Linked DNA regions of Homo sapiens: region 1 is linked to region 2. Evidence: fine-mapped expression QTL. A gene starts in region 2. The other region holds a variant in brackets. All regions are shown on one strand. Distances are from middle to middle.

Region 1 (2,899 bases), 420 kb after region 2:
AGCCAAGGTGGGTGGATCACGAGGTCAGGAGTTCAAGAACAGCCTGACCAACATGGTGAAACCCCGTCTCTACTAAAAATACAAAAATTAGTTAGGCATGGTGGCACACATGCCTGTAATCCCAGCTACTCAGGAGCCTGAGGTAGGAGAACTGCTTGAACCCAGAAGGCAGAGGTTACAGTGAGCCCAGATCACGCCACTGCACTCTAGCCTGGGCGACAGAGCAAGACTGTCTCAAAAAAAAAAAAAAAAAAAAAAGCTCCATCTGCAGTTATCTGTCGTTAGAGTTTACAAAACAGAGACCTCTTCTGCAGTGTGTCTATCCACATGTAAATATATGTACACAAGATTTAATCTGTTGTTTTGCCCCAAATCTGCCACAAGAGGCTAAGGAAGAGCAAAATAAACGTCGCGATTCGCTTCTCACAGTTCTCAGCCCTTCGCGCTGAACTATTGCTGAGATGGTGGGTTTTGCCAGCAGCCATTGTAGCCCCCGGGCCTGGCTGCATTGCTCACCTCCCTCAGCCTTGTTCTGTCCCTGTCCATGAGATGGAAGTGGCTTTCTCCAGTCAGCTGTGTGTGCAGAGACCGGGGGCTCCGGGCAGAGCCGAGTCCATCAGGACTGGAGGAAGTGCTCACAGCAGGCAGGCTCCCTGGGCCCTGGGTGGGAGGCCTCAGGGATCCCCGTACCTCCTTGCTCACCAGCCAGGCTCGACCTACTGCCCTGTGGGGCAGGTCAGGCTTTTTCCACAGCTCCCTCTCTGGGAGGAGGGTCCTTCCAAGTGAGGGTGTGGTGTAGCTGGAGAATCCCTCTTTCTAGGGGATTTAAATAAGCAGCCCCAGCCGGACGCGGTGGTTCACGCCTGTACTCCCAGCACTTTGGGGGGCCGAGGCGCACAGATCACGAGGTCAGGAGTTTGAGACCAGCCTGGCCAACATAGTGAAACCCCATCTCTACTAAAAAAAACAATACAAAAAGTTAGCTGGGCATGGTGGCAGGTGCCTGTAATCCCAGCTACCTGGGAGGCTGAGGCAGGAGAATGGCTTGAACCCGGAAGGCAGAGGTTGCAGTGAGCTGAGATTGCACCACTGCACTCCAGCCCAGGTGACAGTGCAAGACTCTGTCGCAAAAAAAAAAAAAAAAAAAAAAAAAAAAATTAAATAAGTAAATAAATAAGCAGCCGCATGACCCATGCTGAGGACCCTCTGCCTCACGTTGGTGGCCACGTG[T/C]GGTGGCTGCACGCTGGGTGCCTGGGGATGGCTGTGTCCCCGAGTCAGCCCCAGAAGTGCCTACGCCTCTAGGACAGCTCAGAAGTGCTGACAGGTCGTGGCCTCTCAGGATGGGCTCTGGGTTGCAGCTTCATGCCTGGAGTGGCTCATGTTTGGGGGCAAGGTCATGGGCGTTTAAGAGCAGCGACTGGCCAAGAACATGATCTGTATCAGCAGCAGCTTTTGAGAATCTGATGAAATCCCCAGAGCCCCAGAAGGGCACCGGTGTGTTCCAGCTGGTGCACGTTCACAGGGCTTGTCTCCTCAGAGCGTTTATGGGGAAAAAGATGGAAATGTTCAAGCCCAGTCCGTACTGAGAAGCAAATCGAACTTCATACACTTGGTAGACATTTTCAGTGGAAAAATATTAACATTTTATGGAATTCTTACTCTGCTACGTCCCTAGCCAAGCTGTTTGTATGCATGACCTTGGTTAAACCTCAGTTGCCTCTAGACCCCCATTTCATAGGCAAGGAAGCTGGGAGAGGGTCCCCCCATTTCATAGGCAAGGAAACTCGGAGAGGGTCCCCCCATTTCATAGGCAAGGAAGCTCGGAGAGGGTCTCCCATTTCATAGGCAAGGAAGCTGGGAGAGGGTCCCCCCATTTCATAGGCAAGGAAGCTCGGAGAGGATCCCCCCATTTCATAGGCAAGGAAGCTGGGAGAGGGTCCCCCCATTTCATAGGCAAGGAAGCTCGGAGAGGGTCCCCCATTTCACAGGCAAGGAAGCTGGGAGAGGGTCCCCCATTTCATAGGCAAGGAAGCTGGGAGAGGGTCCCCCCATTTCACAGGCAAGGAAGCTGGGAGAGGGTCCCCCCATTTCACAGACAAGTTCAGAGAGGCTCCCCCCATTTCATAGGCAGGGAAGCTGGGAGAGGGTCCCCCCATTTCACAGACAAGTTCGGAGAAGGTCCCCCATTTCATAGGCAAGGAAGCTGGGAGAGGGTCCCCCCATTTCACAGGCAAGGAAGTTCAGAGAGGGTCCCCCCATTTCACAGACAAGGAAGTTCGGAGAGGATCCCCCATTTCATAGGCAAGGAAGCTGGGAGATGGTCCCCCCATTTTATAGGCAAGGAGTCTGGGAGAGTGTCCCCCCATTTCATAGGCAAGGAGGCTGGGAGAGGGTCCCCCCATTTCATAGGCAAGGAGGCTGGGAGAGGGTCCCCCCATTTCATAGGCAAGGAAGCTCGGAGAGGGCCAGTGCTTTTTAACGGTCACGCAGTTCTGAGCATCAGGCTGTCAGCCTGGAGCCTGGCTTGGTACTGAGGTTCCCAGGATGTATAAAGAACTGAACACGCACCTTTGCTGTTGGCTCTTCTGTGCGAGTGCTCTGAGAGTTTTCTGTACTCCCGGCAAGTTTGGGTTGGTACAGATTCACCACAGCGAATCTGACCACGTGGTGACCACAAGCACGCGCTTACTGCGCGCCTAAGTTCACACTCCCTGGAGAAGCTCCTGCCCCAAGGCCGCAGCCTATGGGCCTTTGCGTCTACTCAGGACCATGAGGCTGTGTCCCCGAGCCTGGCCCGGGTAGTAACTGGCATGGCCTGCGGTGCTGGGGGCGTGTCCACAGGAGCTGGTGCCACAGAGGACACGTGTGTCTGCTGTCTTCCTGGACTCGGTCGGACCAG
Region 2 (2,899 bases):
GCTGTTCCCACAGGAAGGAGAGACTCATTGTTTGGGAGGCATGGCTGCAGATAAGCAGGGAGGGTGTGGAATCACATCCAGGGCTGCTTTATAAACACGGATTGATGACACATTATGCCCCCACCCCGGGAAGCGGCACACAGTGCTACAAACAGCTGGTGGCTTCCAGCCGGCTGATGGCCCCTCCCTCCCCAGGAAGTCCTGGCTGGGGCCCATGGGGGTGGGACGGCTGGTCAGAGGAGGAGAGGCAGTTGGAGACCAGGTCCTGCCCTGTTAGCCTTTCTGTAGGACCAGGTGTCACACTCATCTGAGGGCTCCAGACACATGGCCTGTGCGTCTGTCCTGCCCAGCGTCTCCCACCTGACGCGGCCAGGTGCCCAGTTGCTCTTCAAGGCCTTTTCAGGTGCTCCTTTCCAGGACCAGGGTCACAGAAGTCAAAGCTCAGGAAAAGCCCCTCGAGGGTTTTTGTGCGGCAGAGGTGGGTTGTGGGGTGGGATTGTGCCTGCCACAGTGGAGGGGCCCTGCAGACCCAGATAAACCTTCAAGTGGCCAGAAGCGGGGGATGGCTCTGCTGGGTGCTGGGGCTGCCATGGGCCGTGGGAGCCAGCAGTGTGCCCAGCTCCCTCAGGGCCCGTCCCCTAGGCCCTTCCGTCCACTGGGCCAAGCACCGTCCCTGCCCCTCCCTAGGGGCATGGATCTGACTTGAGAGGTTGTGAGAGCTTACAGGCGCTGGGCCGTCGGGGAGGCCTCAGAAGCGTAGGACGGCTGCGCACTGCCGGGCCGTGTTCAGCCCTGGTCTGGCCTCGGCCTCTAGAGGAGGCTGCCTGCGCTCCAGCAGGCCCAACCCAGAACGTGGGCGAGCTCCCTTCAGCATCCCTGGGCGGAAAGAGGGATGGGGGCTCTGCTGCAGAGGCAGAATCCGCGCCGCTCCCTCCTTCCTTCCCCCGACCAGCCTGTGACAACCCCGGCCAGGGGCGGGGGCCTCCGCACAAGCCTGGCGTCCACTTCCTGGATAAGGACTCCCCGGCCCACTCCGGACCAGGGCTGGGGCGGCCTCCCAGGCGCTCACTCCGCTGGCACCCCACCGGAAAACACGTCTGCGGCCCGCCCCCTCCCCCAAAGCACGACCACTCCGCCCGGGCCCCTCGAGGATCCACTCAGGTTCACGACGGGCCCGTCCTCTCGGTGGTCTGACCACCGGCTGGTGGAGTGGGCTCTGGGGCCGCCAGGCGACCAGGGCGCAGGCGGGGGCGGACAGCTCATTGGGAGGGGCGCCGGGGCACAGTGCGGGGCTCGCCCCACCCCCAGGTGCCCCTTCCCCGCTCTCGCCTCGCAGGCACCGCATCGGGCCCGGGAATCGGTCCGGACCTGGCGGTGGGCGCTGGGAAGAGGATCCACCTCCACGTGGCCCGCCCCGCCCCGGGGGCGCAGCCAGTTCCCGGCGCTCACTGCCCCCCTTCTCCCGGCTTCCGTCCCCTTCTGCGCAGGCGCCGCTCCGCCCCGGTCCTAGGGGTGCTTCCGTGGTCGGCGGCTGCTGGGCTCCGCGCCGGGGTCCGAGTCCCACGAAGCCCCGGCCCGAGCCGCCGGATGCCCGCGCGCAGCGGGGCCCAGGTGAGCGCGCGCCTCGGCCGCCCCGCGGAACAGACGCGCCCACCCCCAGGCGCAGCAGCGAGCGCGGCCGCGGGAGCGGGAGTGCCGGGGACGGGCGTAGCGCCCACCGCCCCGAGGGTTCGGGGCAGAGCCAGAGCATAGGCCAAGGGCCAAGCTCGGGCCGAGAGCAGTGGCCGCAGCGCCCGGGGGCTGAACCCACGGCGCGCTGGCAGCGCGGGCCGAGCTGCGGAGACGGTCACGTCAGCGTCCGTTCCAGGCCGACTGGCAGTCTCCGTTCTACATTAACGTCAGCACTCCCGTTAAAAATAATGCATCTCTCCCATGCCAGGAGGACTTAGGTGCTGCTAAAGACCAGCCCTCCGGGTGCTGCCAGGCCGGCGCTCACCCGCCACCTTCATCTTCCCTTCTCCTTTGCCCCAGGACAGCCGAGGATGTGTGGTTAGGTTCCCCCTACCCATGGGGAGGCCAGAGGTGGGAGGCTGGCGGCCTGCTCGGTCTCAGCAGACCCTCCTAGTCCCTCAGGAGACCTTGCCTTTGCCCCACTTGCTCGTTATCCAGCCTGGGCCATGAAGCAGAGGACAGTTAGGGACCCTGAGCACGCGGTGGTCACCCCGGTGCTCACCCCTCCCTGTGTGTCCGACCTTGGCCCTGCTAAGATCCTGTGTTTTGAATTCTGGCAAGGGTTGGATGAAAGGGCAGGGCTCCAGAAACCAGCTCAGACGTTTGCTTGGGACCTGCATGATGAGTGGGAATCGGAGGGCACCAGCCCTGCTGTCCCAGGCTCAGGCCCCCATCTGCTCCCCAGGTCATGCAGCCTGGGCCCCCATGCCGTGCAGCTCGCACATATGTGGGGCAGAGCAGCCACCCTGCCCCCAGCAGCAGCCGTCCATCGTCAGACGTGATCATTTCCTGAGGCCTCGAGTGTGTCAGGGTGTTTGTGCCTCATAACAACCCACAGGATGGTCACCCCCGCTTTGCAGATGAAGAAACCAAAGCAGGTGGTCAGATCCAGTCCTTGCACTTCCTGAGCCTGACCTTACCACACAGCTGTCTCCTATTCGGATGCTTATTTATTTTTTTTCCCATTACAGTTTTGCCGACGGATGGGGCAAAAGAAGCAGCGACCAGCTAGAGCAGGGCAGCCACACAGCTCGTCCGACGCAGCCCAGGCACCTGCAGAGCAGCCACACAGCTCGTCCGATGCAGCCCAGGCACCTTGCCCCAGGGAGCGCTGCTTGGGACCGCCCACCACTCCGGGCCCATACCGCAGCATCTATTTCTCAAGCCC

What was found. PIP is the estimated chance that this variant, and not a neighbour inherited with it, causes the effect. A credible set is the group of variants that fine-mapping cannot tell apart.
Region 1: its variant is the best candidate, but not a certain one, in a credible set for the expression of MPG in monocytes (TOPMed, PIP 0.80).

What each region holds. Positions count from the first base shown.
Region 1 is chr16:499,560-502,458 of GRCh38, forward strand. All of the region lies in intron 6 of RAB11FIP3 (RAB11 family interacting protein 3), which reads left to right. Among named protein-coding and RNA genes, the nearest start is that of LINC00235, 26 kb to the right of the region's middle. The variant T/C (reference allele first, on the strand shown) is at 1,231.
Region 2 is chr16:76,723-79,621 of GRCh38, forward strand. It overlaps MPG (N-methylpurine DNA glycosylase), which reads left to right and starts at 1,503. Exons shown (of 4, transcript NM_001015052.3): 1 at 1,503-1,611; 2 at 2,703-2,899. The coding sequence starts at 1,588. RefSeq lists a silencer at 1,084-1,773 and an enhancer at 1,288-1,582.